2 separate regions of the Homo sapiens genome follow, and region 2 is linked to region 1. Evidence: fine-mapped expression QTL. A gene starts in region 1. The other region holds a variant in brackets. All regions are shown on one strand. Distances are between the middles of the regions. Region 1 holds the start of IDUA (alpha-L-iduronidase). Region 2 overlaps TMEM175 (transmembrane protein 175).

Region 1 (8,095 bases):
CTCAGAGAGGCCTCTCTAGGCAGGATGGAGGCAAAGCTGCCCCTTGCTGTCTTCCATCTGTGGGAGGGGGCGGCTTCCCCTGTCCTCGGTGGCTTGCCGGATGCCAAGTGTGGGAGGAGGTCACCTCCCGTAAACCCCTGGGCTGCCTGGCAAGCCCTGTGGGACCCTCTGAGCGAAGAGAAATGGGTGCGTGCGTGAGGGTACGGTGCTGCTGGCCACACTGCTGGGGAGCCCGGTGGACGGCTGCTGCTCCACCCCTGCCCGGACGCCCCCAGTGAAAGGCGGACCTGGAAGCAATGTGCCAGGCGTGGTCTCAGCCCTGAGGGCCTCCGCCGACCAGTGGCTTCTTCCCCACGTTTATTATAAGCCACTGGGCCATTGCCCAAAAGGTGTCCCCTGCAGGGTAGAGACCTGTGTGAATCTCTTGCCTCACAGAGCCCCAAAATCTAAATCGGAATCGCACACGTCTCTACACACAGCAAGGCCTTCCTCCTGGCCTGTCGTGGCCGGGTCCGTGTGTCTCCCCACACCTCACTGAAATAAACCCTGGGGACACATTTTAGAACAATCTTTCAATCTCTCCTGAGGCCGTTACAGCCTCCTCTGTGTCAAACCCCCCTCCGTCTCCCCTGTATAGGAACACTGGGATTACACTCAGGGCCCACTCGGATAACTAGAATCATCTCTACGTCTTGGATGCTTCACGGAACCATGCCTGCAGGCGCTCGCCATGTGAGGCGACAGGCGCGGGCCTGGACAGGACGGAGGGCGTCTTCAGGAGGCTCTCCTCCCCTCTCACTTCACTTTTCCCATACAGCACCTGTGCCACTCTTGCTGTAAATCCTAATTCCCCAGAAATATGTGAAACCCTGTAACATGATTGTTTTATGCGGTTACGATTCATTAGGTTTATACACAATATACCGTTTCTGTTGCTTTTGTTGGGGTTCAGAAAATGTCACCCAGAGTGAAGGCCTTGGAAGCCAGGCCTTCTCCTGCCTCCTGTCTCTGGCCCCTCATTGTCCCAGGCAGGTCGTAGAAACCTAAGCCCCTTTTCCCCAAAGCCAGCCATAAACCTAAAAGTATGACTCTAATAACTTTTCTCTGTCTTTCTGTGTAAAAACTGGCCATAAAGGAATTCTCTGGCCTGCCTTGTTTGACTGTATGTGGTCAGACCCCTATTCCGGGGCGTTGTGCCCCCACCCAGCAGGAGGGAGAGCTGCAGAGAGAGGCCTCCAGGAACCGAAGCAGATGGGCCTCGCTGGGCTCCCCCAGGAGTCTGTTAGCCTGTCAGGTCTTAACCTTTCGTCCAATCCTATTTCCAGATTCACAGAACCTGAGTATAAAAATGTGGTTTCCCCTGCGCCTTTAGGTCTTTGCTCTGAAAGCTGCTGTGTCACATAAAACTACAATCCAAGAAATCTGTGTACCCTTTTAGTGAAACTTCAGAAAGGCAGGGGAGGTTTTCCCTTCCCCCCGCACTCTTCACTTCTTCCTCTGCACCTCTGAGCTGGGATTTGGGACATCATTCTTTCTACTTGAAGAACACCATTTAATTTTGTCTTTTCTTTTTGAAACAGGGTCTCACTCTGTTGCCCAGGCTGGAGTGCAGTGACGTGATCTTGGTTCACTGCAGCCTCTGCCTCCCAGGTTAAAGCAATTCTCCTGCCTCAGCCTCCTGAGTAGCTGGGATTACAGACGCATGCCACCACGCCCGGCTAATTTTTGTATTTTTGGTAGAGACAGGGTTTCACCATGTTGGCCAGGCTGGTCTCGAACTCCTGACCTCAGGTGATCTGCCCGCCTCAGCCTCCCAAAGTGCTGGGATTACAGGCATGAGCCACCTTGCTCAGCCTAGTTGGATTTAATTTGCTGTTAAACCAATTCGTTATCAGCTTTACTGAGATATGATTTACATACAATAAAATGAAGCAAGTTCAAGTGTATCATTCAATAAATTTTTACTAAGTTTCATGAGGTTTTAATATTTTTTTCAATGTTTTCATTTTGAAAAATTTCAAACTCACAGAAAAGTTGCAATAACAGTATATAGTTTTCACCCAGGTTCACCAACTGTTAATATTTTGCTACCTTTGCTTTTATCTCAGTCTCTGTATGTAATCTAAATTTATTGTTTTGCTTTAATTTCCAGAGCAACTTTGGTTACAAATCTATTGATTCTTCACCTCTAAACCCTTCAGCATGGATCACAAATGAACAAAAAATCTCCATTCACAACCGTGATGCAATCATTGAGTCGTTTAATAATTCTGGAGTTTGACCCAGCGCGGTGGCTCATGCCTATAATCCCAGCACTTTGGGAGGCCGAGACAGGTGGATCATTCGAGGTCAGGAGGTCGAGACCAGCCTGGCCAGGATGGTAAAACGCTGTCTCTACTGAAAATACAAAAATTGGCTGGGCGTGGTGGCTCATGCCTGTAATCCCAGCTACTCAGGAGGCTGAGGCAGAGGTTGCAATGAGCTGAGATCGCACCACTGCACTCCAGCCTGGACAACAGAGTGAGACTTCGTTTAAAAAAACAAAAAACAAAAACAAAAAAAATTCTGGAGTTTATCATTGGTAGAATTTTGTTGCACAATGTACAAGGCATATTCCAAATTGTGAATGTCCCCATCATGCACTTTGTAATAATTTTTCCTGACCCGGATCCATTCCAGCACCGTGCAGTGAGGACTTCTGTCTGTTTTTGTTTTGTTTTACCTTCCTCCAGGGAAGGTGTACTTTTCTGTCCACAGGTGTCCCGGTGAGCGGCTCACCTTAATTCTCTCAGGGCTTGAGGTGATTTAAGGCTGGCTTCAGTCCCCACAAAGACAATTCTGTTGCTGGTTTACCTTTGCTTTTAGGGGATAGAACTTTGGGGTCCCAAGAAAAACCCAAAGTCTTTACCAGGCCCCCCGCCTGAGCCTCGACTTCTGTCCTGTGGCCACAGTGTGAGGAACGAACGCAGCAGCGTGTCGCCATGTCTTGTGTGGCTGGGATACGCTGCAGGGGTGTGGAGTCGCCGCCCCAAAGCGGGCCCCGCCCCCTCCCGGCTTGTCCCTGCAGAGCCCCGAGGCCTCAGAGGCTCCTCAGAGCTCCCAGTGCCCTGGACGGTTCCGTTCAGCGCTCTCCAGTTCTGATGGTTGCTCTCAGGAGGCGGCTGGTCTGAAACAATTCAGTTTCCATTGCTGTGTCCTGCACCACGGTGTGGGACTGGTGGTTTCTTACTGTTTTTCTCAGTTCTCTGACGCTTTGAGGAATTGTTTTTAAAGCGAGTTATCCATCATTTTAGTTGTTTTCTCTGGGGTCGTTGGACTGAGGGTCTTACCCCGCTGTTCCTGGAGACAGTTCTGTACTTGCATGGTTTCTCTCGCCTTTCCCTCCCTTTCTTACTTTTTAGTTTCTTAATGAATTTTTTTGTATTATGTTTTTCCTCCTTGCTAATTTGGAATATATACACACTATTTCACTTTTAAATGGCTAATCACTTTTAATGCAATTTCAACATAAGAAGACCTAATGTTAAGCAATATTTTAACCCCTCTCCCCAAAATAAAAAGACCCAGAACACTGTAACTCTAATTATCCTTCTCCCAACTTAGAGAGGATTATTGTCCAGTATTTTCGTTTTGTTAGTAGACTGTTCTTTTTTTCTTTTCTTTTTTTAGAGATGGGGTCTCATTTTGTCAACCAGGCTGGAATGTAGTGGTGTGATCATGGCCCGTCTCAGCCTTGAACTCCTAAGCTCAAGCAATCTCCCACCTCAATTTCGTGGGTAGCTGGGCCTCACAGGCATATACCATCGCATCTGGCTAAATTTTTTTTTTGTACAGATGGGGTCTTGGTACATCTCCCAGGCCGATTTCAAACTCCAGGCCTCAAGTGATCCTCCCGTGTTGGCCTGCAATTCCAAAGTGCTGGGATTGCAGGTGTGAGCCACCGCACCAAGCCTGTTCTTTCCATTATTATTTTTATACAATGTTTGCTTGGATTCACACATGCATACATGGACTACACATGTACTACAGTTGTCCCATGGTATCCTCGGGGTATTGGTTCCAGGACCCTCCCAGATACCAAAATTTGCAGGTGCTCAAGTACTTGATATAAAATGGCACAGTATTTGCACATTACCTACGCACATCCTACTGTGTAGTTTAAATCAAGATTACTTATAGTCCCTAAAACAATGTAAATGCTCTGTAAATAGCTGTTATACTGTATTGTTTTAAAATATGTATTATTTCGTATTGCTTTGGCTTTAAAACAATATTTTCAGTCTGCTTGGTTGAATCCATGGATCTGAAGCCAAGTGTAAGGAGGGCCCAGTGTGCTCTTCTGGGGTAATTCTCCTTCCTGCTAAAGCGCACGCTTTACTCAGGAGGCTGGGGTGAGAAAATCGCTGAAGCCCCGGAGATGGAGGTTGCAGTGAGCTGAGATCGCGCCACTGCACCTCAGCCTGGGCGACAAAGCAAGACTCTGTCTCAAAAACACACAAAAACAGAGAAAAACAAGACAGTAATGGCTCAACTCACATAGCACCAACGGGCGAAGCGTTCTTCTGAGCGCTTTCCGAGTCATCGGTCCTCAGAGCAGCCCCTGAGGCCCGCAAGGAAGCGGGGCTCCAAGCCCTGCCGTGCTCCCGGCTCCCCGAGGCTCCCCGAGGCCACCCAACCCCTCCCACCCGGCCATCGCCCCCTCACCAAGGCCCCGCCCCGCGGCGGCGGTCACATGGGGTGCGCGCCCAGACTCCGACCCGGAGGCGGAACCGGCAGTGCAGCCCGAAGCCCCGCAGTCCCCGAGCACGCGTGGCCATGCGTCCCCTGCGCCCCCGCGCCGCGCTGCTGGCGCTCCTGGCCTCGCTCCTGGCCGCGCCCCCGGTGGCCCCGGCCGAGGCCCCGCACCTGGTGCATGTGGACGCGGCCCGCGCGCTGTGGCCCCTGCGGCGCTTCTGGAGGAGCACAGGCTTCTGGTGAGCGCTCCGCGGCCTCCGGGACCCCCTGGCCGCACGGGGAGAGCTCGGGCGCCCCCTGACTGCGCACTGTGAGAGCTTCAGAGACCGGAGCTCCCTCCTCTGGGGCCCTGGCTCTCCCGGGCCCGCCCCCCGCCGTGTTTGTGGGTGGGTCCTCCACCTGAGTGGGCGCCGGGGCGTGAGCCTGGGCCGCCCCCTGCAGCCCAGGCCGATGCCCGGGATCCTGCTCTTTGAGGTAAACCAGGAGTCTCCCCTGGGAGTGGACGGCCCTGCAGCGGGACCTGGCCTGCCTGTCCCATTCCTTCCACCTAGAGCTGAGGTACCCGCCTTCCTGGCAGGGCCAGGGCCAGGGCTGGCGTTGGCCCCTCGTCTTACTGCTGCTGCCGTTCCCCATGAAGATGGGACCTCCCCACATTCCTGGCCCTAAGGGTCATTTTATTAGTCACTGAACGCACGGGCAGCGCCTGGATCCTGCGCCCGGGCAGTCCTGGGCTTGAACGTGTGTGTCAGCCGCGCTGCCAGCCATGCTGAGGCTCGGGACTGAGCCGCCCCTTTGTTGTCCCCAGCCCCCCGCTGCCACACAGCCAGGCTGACCAGTACGTCCTCAGCTGGGACCAGCAGCTCAACCTCGCCTATGTGGGCGCCGTCCCTCACCGCGGCATCAAGCAGGTCCGGACCCACTGGCTGCTGGAGCTTGTCACCACCAGGTGGGCGGCGGGCAGGGTCTGGGCGTCCCAGAGCCCCTTACAGAGGCACAGATGGGAGGGGAGGGCTGGGGGCTGCTCGGAAGACCCCTTGTTCCCCCACCTCCCGCCGAAGCACCCTGTTGGGGAGAGCGTGTCCTTGCTGGCTGTGCTGGGGTGAGGGCTGTGTGCTGGAGGGAGCCCCTGCATGGGGCACGGTGGGCTTCCTGCAGGTCTCCCTGCAGGCTCAGGGTTGGCTGCGCCGCACCTGGCTCCTGGTGCACCCGTGAGCATCCCTGTGTGTGTCTGCTGGCCAGGCTGGGTAGGGCCACTGCACCTGAGGGCTGAGCTGAGGTCTCATCGGTCACAGCACCCTGGGCCCTGACGCTGGTGCAGGTGGCCACCCTGTGAGGGGGAGGCACGAGGTGTGAGGGGCACTTGGGTGTGTGGGGCCTTCTGGAAACACAGAGACCCTCGTGCACTTGGCCAGAGCCGCTGGCTCCTACCAGCAGGGTGGGCACCGGGCAGGCCTGGGCATAGGGAGTCCTCTTGGCACCTTGGAGGCTGCATGATGGCGGGGGACCCTTGTTCAAATAAGATGTCAACCCTGAGCGTCAGGTCAGGCCCATCCCTCCTGAGCTGAGGGACGGTGCATTGGGGCCCAGCCAGCACTGTGGGCCAGCCTGTCTCGGAGGCAGAGGTTCTTGATTTCTGAGTGTTTGGGTCCTGCGTGTGATCAGAGGGCCTCCTTTCCCAGTTGGGGTTCCCCGGTTTCCCCAGGGCAGCTGTGGCACAAGAGTGCAGCTCTTGGGTGGCTCCTCCCTGGGAAGGGTCTCAGCAGTGGCTTGCAGACGTCTGCTGTGGGTCCCCAGGAGGGAGCAGAGGCTGCTGGGCAGGCCTGGCCCTGCTACAGATGGGCATCGGTGGCCTCCAGCTCCCTGTGGCGGGCTCGTGCTGTCTGCACGGCATCGTGCACACTGAGGAACAGCTGCTCCTCCTCAGCCGTGTCCCCGGGGCCCTCCCCGAGGAAGCCTCCTCTGCTCAGAATGTCTCTCACAGGCGGGCTGCAGCAGGCTAGCAGCAGGCTGATGCCCAGGGCCCCGTAGTCTCGGCGCAGGTCCTGCAGCGTGCTCACACCGGCTGCGTCTAGGAACAGCAGCGGGGCGCAGTCGATGACCACTGTGTGGAAGCCGGCCGCTGCGGGCACCAGCGCAGCCCTGGTGCTAACCGGGCCCAGGTCCTCGCCCTGGGCAGGGCCTCCCTCACCGACCCCCGTCTCTGAGCCCCCCTCCTTCCTCCTGGCAGCCATGCACCCTGCGTCCAGCCCCGTGAGGCTGTAGAGTGACTGCAGGAAGAAGTCCTTGTTGGCATAGTACAGCGGCCCCCCAAAGCGGAACACCCGCACGCCGGGCTCAGGGACGAGGCCCTCGAACTCTGTGGCATCCTCGTAGAAGGCCGTGTCCCCGATGCGGGCCAGCAGGGCGGTGCGTGGGCGTTGGGTGCGGCCGGCCAGGCTGAGCAGCGAGAGGATGACGCCAGCCAGCAGCCCGGCCTCTGTGCTGACCAGCATACAGGTGGCCGCGGTGCCTGCCCAGACCAGCGCGTCAGCCGGGCTCATCCGCCACAGCCGCGGGAGGTCCCACACCTTGCGCAGGGCCCCCCGCAGGCTGACCACGATGACGCAGGCCAGCACGCTTCGCTGTAGGTCGTGGAACAGCGGTGCCAGCGCCAGCAGCACCAGCAGCACCACGGTGGCGCTGACCACGCTGGACAGCTGTGTCCGGCAGCCAGTGGCTGTCTTCACCAGGCTCTTGGCCAGGGCGGCGCTGGTGGCGAAGCAGTGGAGGAAGGCGGGTAGCACGTTGCAGCAGCCCACAGCCAGCAGCTCCTGGTTGGCACGCACAGAGTAGCCGTGACTGCGGGCGAACATCTCCGCCAGCGAGATGGAGAAGGCGGCAGCCACGAGGGCCAGGGCCACGGCATCCAAAGCCACACGCTGCATCAGCCTGGGCTCTGGGACCTGAGGGGGCATGAAACCCGTGGGGATGTCGCCAGCCACGCTCGAGCCAAAGCGCTTGTGGAGCTGCCCGAAGTGCGACACGAGTGTGGCCACCACGATGACCAGCAGCTCCGTGGGCAGCGGCACCCTCAGGCGGTGTCGGTAGCGGTCTGAGAGCTCCTTCGCGGCTAGCAGCACCGCCAGGCACACCGTGCTGGTGACCACGTCGCACACGTTGGCCTGCCCGGCGCCGCGCAGCAGGCTCAGCCATGTGAGGACCACCATGCCGGGCCCCTGGTGCCGCGGGATCCGCACGCCCAGCAGGTGTTTGAGCTGCGAGGTCAGGATGGTCACGGAGGCCCCCATGGCAAAGCCATCGAGCAGTGGCTGTGAGAGGTAGGCGGACACGAAGCCCAGCCGGAGGACGCCCATGAGGACCT
Region 2 (8,108 bases), 33 kb before region 1:
CAGGCAGCAAGCAGCACAGGCACTGGGACCCCAGAGCCGCTCCCGCCCTCCCTAGGGGGGCAGCTGCTCAGGAAAGCTGCGTCCCCACCGAGGCCCATGGGGTGGGCTTGGCCAAATGCAGTCGTGAGGTACTGGCCTTGGCTGCCCCTTTCAGAACGGGGTCGCTGAGGTACGGCCACATCCACCTGTGATGCCCGTGCCAGAGGGCGCATGACAATGAAGGGCCCGGGTGGTTGAAAATAAAAACCTGTGAACCTAAACCTGCTCCGACTTCTCTGCAGCCAGGGCACCTTTCTAGGACTGTGGTGTTTAGTGCCCTGTCTTTTCTCTGTTGTCCTAACTGGGTCACAGGGAGGGTCTGAGTCTCAGAAAGTCCTGGAGAGTCAAAAGCTCATTCAGAGAACACATTTATGTGAAGAGGGAAAGGCCTGACGTGTGTCCCAGGGAAGGTGCTAGAACAGTGGACACCTCCTTGTGAGGAGAGGGGACTCCTGGGGCTGTGCTCACTCTGATGAAAAATAAAAGACAGTTGTAACTTTGAAAACCCATGATTCGAAAAGCTAAATGGGACTCAATTAAGAAGTGACTGAAACACTAAGTTATTGACCCAGAGACCTGCCTGCAAGTGAAGAACCAAGGGAGACAGTAAAGTGCTCAGTGTTCTGTTGGGAGCGTTCGTGGAGAAAGCATGAAAACCTTCCCAGGGCTGGAGGGCGAGGGCCCCGGTGCCTCCACGCCCACCGCGGCCCCCAGGGCAGGCTGCCTTCGGGGTCCCTCGCAGCTTCCACAGAGACCCTTTCCCGTGGCTGCTTTGGAATTGCCTACCTAGGCAGTGCCAGGTGTGACCCTTTTGTGCTGTCAACCTGTGTGTCCTTCCGAAGTCCGCATGCCGGACGCCTCACAGGGATGGCGTTGTGAGGCAGAGCCTTTCGGTGGTGACCCGGTTATGATGGCAGAGCCTCATGAATGACATTCGTGACCTGGTGCTTTTGCCCTCCTGTCCCCTCCCACATGCGGATACACAGAGGGTACCATCCCTGAGGCGGAGTCCACAGCAGACACCGAGCCCATTAAGAGCTGACCCCCCAGCAGGAACACAGCCCATAGAACACTCTGGAGTACACCTGTGGGTGTGGGCATGGATCAGCGCCCTGGAGAAGGGGTGGGGGCTGGAGGGGTGGGGGCTGCAGGTGCCAGGGGAGACAGACCAGCTGGAGACGGAGGCTGGACCCAGACCAGGGCACTCAGGGTCTGCTGGGGAGGCCAGGACCCTCCCAGGTGCCTCACAGGACCCACCCGAGGGTTTCGCCCTGCCCTGGGCCGAGGCCAGCCCCCCCTCACGGTGCTGTCTCGACTGCCATTCAGGGACACTCATGTCACCTGGGCTCTGACAGCAGTGCTCTTGTATTCCAGCAGTTCGACAGAAGTGTACAGAGGCTTCTGGCAACACGGATTGCCGTCTACCTGATGACCTTTCTCATCGTGACAGTGGCCTGGGCAGCACACACAAGGTGGGGGCCCGGGCGCTTCCAGCGGTCCATAGCTGCTCTCAAGGTTCCCGTACCCCGCACCACATCACGCACGGGTCCATGGGGTCGGGGAGGACAGCAGGCTACTCCTCCCACCCTCATCCGCGTGGGGATGGCAGGACTTACCCCAAACCCAGGGCCTGGGACAGTGTGGATGGTGCAGTAGGCGGAGGTGTGGACGGTGCAGTAGGTGGAGGTGTGGATGGTGCAATAGGTGGAGGTGTGGACGGTGTGGATGGTGCAGTAGGCGGAGGTGTGGATGGTGTGGATGGTGCAATAGGTGGAGGTGTGGATGGTGTGGATGGTGCAGTAGGCGGAGGTGTGGACGGTGCAGTAGGTGGAGGTGTGGATGGTGCAATAGGTGGAGGTGTGGATGGTGTGGATGGTGTGGATGGTGCAATAGGTGGAGGTGTGGATGGTGTGGATGGTGCAGTAGGCGGAGGTGTGGGCGGTGCGGATGGTGCAGGGTGTGGATGGGAGCAGGGTGCTTTCTAGGGAACTTCATTTCCTTCGTGTTTTCCAAACTCCGTGCACTAGGTAGTAGTTTATATTTGGTTAACAGTGACATCTTTTAATGATGTTTTAACCAGAAGATGCTGGAAAGAGTGTGTGTGCATTTAATGTTACTACAACCGCGTTTTATTGTCTATCTTTTTCTTAAATGGTTTAGGTTGTTCCAAGTTGTTGGGAAAACAGACGACACACTTGCCCTGCTCAACCTGGTGAGTATTTTCCGGTCCTTTTCTGGGGAGTGACTCTGGTCTGTAATCTGACCCTCAGGGAAGAGGGGAAGGGAGCAGCCGGCCTCTCTCGTGACCTCCAGGGAGTCTCGGAGCCTGGAATCTGTCCACAGCTGGGAGCTCCTTGAATGATCTTTCCCTCCCCATGGGTCGCCAGCCTATATCTCCTCCCAGACACAGCCAGGGTGTGGGGGACCAGGGGCACTGGGTTGGGCACAGGTGTAGGGGACAGAGAGGATGAGTGCCCCCATCTGGCCCTGCAGGGTCTGGGGGCTGGACTCACACTCGCTGGCCCACCCTTCTTGGGGAGGGCCCAGCCCTGTGCCTTCCCGGAGTGGGCTCTGTCCATTCCCCTGCCCTTCTCCCCAGGCCGCATCATGGCTGTGATGCCCTCCCTCCCTCCAGGCCTGCATGATGACCATCACCTTCCTGCCTTACACGGTGAGCAACACCAGGCCCCTGACACCCTGAGGCTTTGCTGGGCACCACTGGATTTGACCTGTCCTCAAAAGCAGACCAGCTGGATGGCCCAGGGCCCAGGCCACACGGTTGTAGAGAAGAGAGAAGGTTCTGGGGAGAGCCAGCTGTTGGGCTGTTGGGGGCTTCTTTCAGGCTGGCGGGGAGGGGAGGCAGTGGCCCCGATGAGGGAGTCACCGGCGCTCCCAGCTCCCACCCGGCCCTGAGCCCACAGCCCCCTGCCCATCCCAGGCCTGTCCCTGGCGTGCAGCCCCTACAGCCTCCGACCACCCGCCCTGTACTACTCAGGCTGTGAAAGTGCCTCCAAATTCTGGCAGTGGCCGCTAGTCTGAGTGTGCGGGGCTGTGTGCCACAAGGAACTGGGGTCTGGGGAATTCCGTATGAATCGGATGACATTTTGGCTTTAAAGGCCTGAGACATCTGGTGGAGTTGGTTGGGGTGGGGGCAGTTTGGACACATGCCCCCCAGCACCCAGCTGGCGCCATCCTGTGATGGCCCCACCGCATCTCCCAGCGTCCCGTGGAGTGGGGAGGCTCACCATGGCCCAGTTCCAGGCTCTGGGGCCTGGTAACCTAGGATTTGGGGGGGTTTGGTTTTGTTTTTGTTTTAACAGTTTTCGTTAATGGTGACCTTCCCTGATGTGCCTCTGGGCATCTTCTTGTTCTGTGTGTGTGTGATCGCCATTGGGGTCGTGCAGGTAGGGGGCCTGGGGGGCCTGCACTGTGTGTGTGTGTGTGTGTGTGTGTGTGTGTGTGTGTGTGTGTGATCACCATCGGGGTCGTGCAGGTAGGGGGCCCAGGGGGCCTGCACTGTGTGTGTGTGTGTGTGTGTGTGTGTGTTCACCATCAGCCCTCTTGGGGCCTGGGGTCCTGTGCTGTGTGTGTGTGTGTGTGTGTGTGTGTGTGTTCACCATCAGTGCTCTTGGGGCCCGGGGTCCTGTGCTCTGTGTGTGTGTGTGCGTGTGTGTTCACCATCAGC[C/T]CTCTTGGGGCCCGGGGCCCTGTGCTGTGTGTGTGTGTGTGCTGTATGTGTGTGTGTATATGTGTGAGTGATCGATTGCCGTCAGGTCACACAGGTAGGGTTCCTGAGGCCACCTACACACATAGGATGTGGCATGCCCAGAGTCCCCGCTTTCTGACCAGAGACTGGGAAGAGTGGGCCCTGAGACCCCCCACATGCGGCCCCAGGAGCCAGCAGGGGCTCCTGTTCTCTCTCCACCTCAGCCCCTGTGCCCAAAGTGTCCCAGGTACAAGCCCACCTCTACTCGCCAGGTCCTCCCCCACCCCAAGACCCCTGTGCGCGCGTGCCATGCAGCCCGGGGCCAGGTCCTCCCCACCTCGAGACCCTTGCGTGCGTGTGCCATGCAGCCCGGGGGTTGACTGCTGTGGGGGCCCCCTCTGCTCTTGGGGCCTGTGTCCTACAGCTTGCTTTTCCCGCAGGCACTGATTGTGGGGTACGCATTCCACTTCCCGCACCTGCTGAGCCCGCAGATCCAGCGCTCTGCCCACAGGGCTCTGTACCGACGACACGTCCTGGGCATCGTCCTCCAAGGCCCGGCCCTGTGCTTTGCAGCGGCCATCTTCTCTCTCTTCTTTGTCCCCTTGGTGAGTGCTGGGACAGCCCGTGGGGCCCAGGCAGGAACGGGGGCCACCATAGGAGCAATGTCCCCGCTGAGCAACAAACACGGGGGTGGGGGCAGAGCGCAGACAGGCAGGGGTTCCACCCAGGGTCTTGTGTGTGAGGCCCAGGGCTGCAGTGAGTGGCACCAGGGAGGGAGGCCTGCTCCACCTGAGGCCCCGAGACCCAGCCTGTCGAGGACAGAGACGGACGCTCATCGAAGGAAGGGGCAGCTGAGTGTCCTTCTCAGAGAAGCTTCACGATGACGATGACCAGAAACAGCGACACCCGGAATCCGGGGGTGCATGCGTTTTCTTGTTTTGTTTTTTGTTCATTGAGGCAAGATCTCGCTGTGTCACCCAGGCCGGAGGGCAGTGGTGTGATCTTGGCTCACCACAGCCTCGACCTCCCGGGCTCAAGTGATTCTCTCACCTCAGCCTCCCAAGTAGCTGGGACTACAGGTGTGCACCACCACACCTGGGTAGTTTTGGTATTTTTTGTGGAGACAGAGTCTTGCTATATTGCCCAGGTTAGTCTGGAATGCCTGGACTAAAGTGATCCTCCCGCCTTAGCCTCCCAAAGTGCTGGATTACAGTGTGAGCCACCACGCCAGCCTTTATTTTCTTTTTTTCTTTTTTTTTTCTTGAGACGGAGTTTTGCTGCCAGGCTGGAGTGCACTGGCGCAATCTCGGCTCATTGCAACCTCTGCCTCCCAGGTTCAAGCAATTCTCCTGCCTCAGCCTCCTGAGTAGCCGGGATTACAGGTGCCTGCCACCACCCTCAGCTAAGTTTTGTATTTTTAGTAGACACGGGGTTTCACCATGTTGGCCAGGCTGGTCTCGAACTCCTGACCTTGTGATCCACCCACCTCAGCCTCCCAAAGTGCTGGGATTGCAGGCATGAGCCACTGCGTCCAGCCTATTTTCTTTTGGATAAGGAATCTATACAAAACTGTGTCAGGACAGTAAACATCAAACAGTGTTTGGAGGAGGAGCCCCTGGGGATAAGACCAGTATCTGCTCATGGGGACATCAGCTGTTGGTGCTTGGAGAATGTGAGCCACTAGGGAGAGGGAGAAGGCAACAAAAGCACTGCTGGAGACGTGTAGGTGTCGTGAGTGGCGCCGCTGTGAGCACTGCTGGAGACGTGTAGCTGCCGTGAGTGGCGCCGGTGTGAGCATTGTTGCGTGTGGAGCCACTGTGGGCATTGCTGGAGTGATGCCTCTCTGAGCATTGCTGGACACGTGTCTCTTCAGATCTGTCTTCTCAGGCTGTTGGTGTGTGTGCCCACAGTGAGTTTCTGGGTCATTTGGTGATTCTGTTTAATTTTTTAAGTTTAATTTTTTGAGGAACCACCAAACTTCCACAGCAGCTGCAGCATTTTACATTCCCACCAGCAGCACATGGTGGTTCCAGTTTGTCCACATCCTCATCAACACCTGCTGTTTTTCAGTTCTCTCCATCCTAGTGGATATGAAGAATCTCGTTGTGGTTTTGATCTGCGAGAGGTCGACCATTTGCATGTTTTGTTTGGAGCAATGTCTGTTCTCATCCTTTGCCCATTTTTAATTGGGTCGTCCTTTTATTTTTGAGTTGTAAGAATTTCAGATAGGGAGATAGACGATAAATTTTAAGACACGGTCTTGCTCTGTCACCCAGGCTGGAGTGCAGTGAGCTGGGTCACCTCTCACTGCAACTCCTGTCTCCCAGGTTCAACAGGCACACACAGTCACACCTGACTAATTTTTTATTTTTCGTAGAGATACAGTCTTACTATGTTGCCCAGGCTGGTCTCGAACTCTTGGGCCCAAGCGATCCACCTGCCTCAGCCCCACAAAGTGCTGGGATTACAGGCATGAGCCACTGTGCTGGCTTAAGAATCCTTTACACTTTTTGGGTACTAGGCCCCATCAGATACATGATCTGCAAAGACCCTCCCTTCTGCCGCAGCCCCTGCTTTGGCACACAGCTTTGTGTGGGTAAGGCCTGGCCTCGGACCCCTGTGGAGGGCACTGACCTGCGGTTTGTCTCCCTGCAGTCTTACCTGCTGATGGTGACTGTCATCCTCCTCCCCTATGTCAGCAAGGTCACCGGCTGGTGCAGAGACAGGCTCCTGGGTAGGTGATGACTGGGTGGGCTGGCCTGAGAGGCCTGTAGTCCGCCCACCTCCGTGCGGCTGCTCCGCACTGAGGGCTGTCCGTGGGCCGAGGCCCGTGTGCGTGGTGGTGGCTGGGGCTCCCCCACTCCGCCCCTCGGGCGTCCCTGTCCTGTCTCCTCTCCTGGCCTGCACATTCCAGGCCTCTTCATGGATGAGGGCGGTGACAGCCACGCGGGCTCTACCTCCACATGGGGGGTTTGGCCAGCTCCACCCTCCTGGCGTGTCCCCAGGCCACAGGGAGCCCTCGGCTCACCCAGTGGAAGTCTTCTCGTTTGACCTCCACGAGCCACTCAGCAAGGAGCGCGTGGAAGCCTTCAGCGACGGAGTCTACGCCATCGTGGCCACGCTTCTCATCCTGGACATCTGGTGAGGACCCCGCGTCACCTGCCCCAGCTATCAGGTGGCCAATGTGTCTTGAGTCCCTGGCGTCTCATCCTGGAAACCCCAGAAAGGCACAGGGGTCTTGGCTCCACCCTCCTCTGGATGCCTAGAGTTTTGTGTGAGGTCAGGGCAGCCCCCACTTCAGGGAGGACAACCTTCCCGGCGGCCCCTCCCTTCCCAGCGGCCCCTCCCTTCCCAGCGGCTCCCACCCCAAGCACAGCCGAGGATGGGGTGCCAGGGTGAGGTCAGCACCAGCAGCCAACTGCTCTCCTCACTCCTCTCAGAGGGGCTCAGCAGCCATGGGTATCCCCCTGCCCCAGGCCTCACCCCTGCCCCAACACCAGCCCCTCCTAGTCCCTAGTCCCTCCCATTCCCTCCGGCTCCCTCCCAGTGCCCCCCATCGCTTCGCAGCCCCTCCTGCTCCCTTTGGCTGGCTGTTGCTTCCTTCCAGCGTCTGCTCCTCCGCGGCCTCATCTGCCTCTTCGTCTGTTAGAGCGCGCGTCTCGTCTCAGTCGTCACGTTTTTGGTTTTTGTGGGGTTTTTTTTTTTTTTTTTTTGAGACAGTCCTGCTGTGTCGCCCAGGCTGGAGTATAGTGGCTCAAGCTCAGCTCACTGCAACCTCCGCCTCCCAGGTTCAAGCAATTCTCCTGCCTCAGCCTCCCAAGTAGTTGGGATTACAAGCACCCACCACCATGCCCAGCTAACTTTTTGCATTTTTAATAGAGATGAGGTTTCACCAAGTTGGCCAGGCTGGTCTTGAACTCCTGACCTCAGGTGATCTGCCCACCTCGGCCTCCCAAAGTGCTGGGATTACAGGTGTAAGCCACCGTGCCCGGCCATCGTAATGTTTGAATTTGCTTTTTTACATCTTCCATCCTTTTGGAGTGTCTTGTTCCCTCGTCATAGTTCAGCACTGTGACCACCTTGGGGTTAGACACTATGGTTTTATATCCTGTACTTGATATTCTCGAGTCCAAGTCTCCTGATGCTCTTCTCTGCTGTCGTGTGCATTTTTAAAAACGGGAAGCAAACGTTCATTGGCATCTGATCTCTAAGGCCCAGGTGCCAGGGATGCTCCAGGGTGAGCTGCCTGATTGTGCAGGCCAGCTGAGGCTCCCCTTGGGAGGGACCTGCCGAAGAGAGGCAGCAGCGTGGGGCCGGGACAGTGACCTCTCCTCCACCTGGAGCCATGGCCAGGGGAGCTGCCCCC

Evidence for each region.
Region 2: its variant is fine-mapped to the expression of IDUA in sigmoid colon (GTEx, PIP 0.91).

What each region holds. Positions count from the first base shown.
Region 1 is chr4:982,270-990,364 of GRCh38, forward strand. It overlaps IDUA (alpha-L-iduronidase), which reads left to right and starts at 4,775. Exons shown (of 14, transcript NM_000203.5): 1 at 4,775-4,973; 2 at 5,540-5,680. The coding sequence starts at 4,816. SLC26A1 (solute carrier family 26 member 1) reads right to left here. Exons shown (of 3, transcript NM_022042.4): 3 at 5,388-8,093. The coding sequence ends at 6,564. RefSeq lists enhancers at 3,137-3,186, 4,362-4,421, 7,002-7,503, 7,504-8,003 and silencers at 4,632-5,281, 5,064-5,241.
Region 2 is chr4:949,008-957,115 of GRCh38, forward strand. It overlaps TMEM175 (transmembrane protein 175), which reads left to right. Exons shown (of 11, transcript NM_032326.4): 4 at 1,414-1,511; 5 at 2,200-2,251; 6 at 2,675-2,710; 7 at 3,360-3,443; 8 at 4,183-4,347; 9 at 6,398-6,476; 10 at 6,748-6,883. Among named protein-coding and RNA genes, the nearest start is that of DGKQ, 21 kb to the right of the region's middle. The variant C/T (reference allele first, on the strand shown) is at 3,725.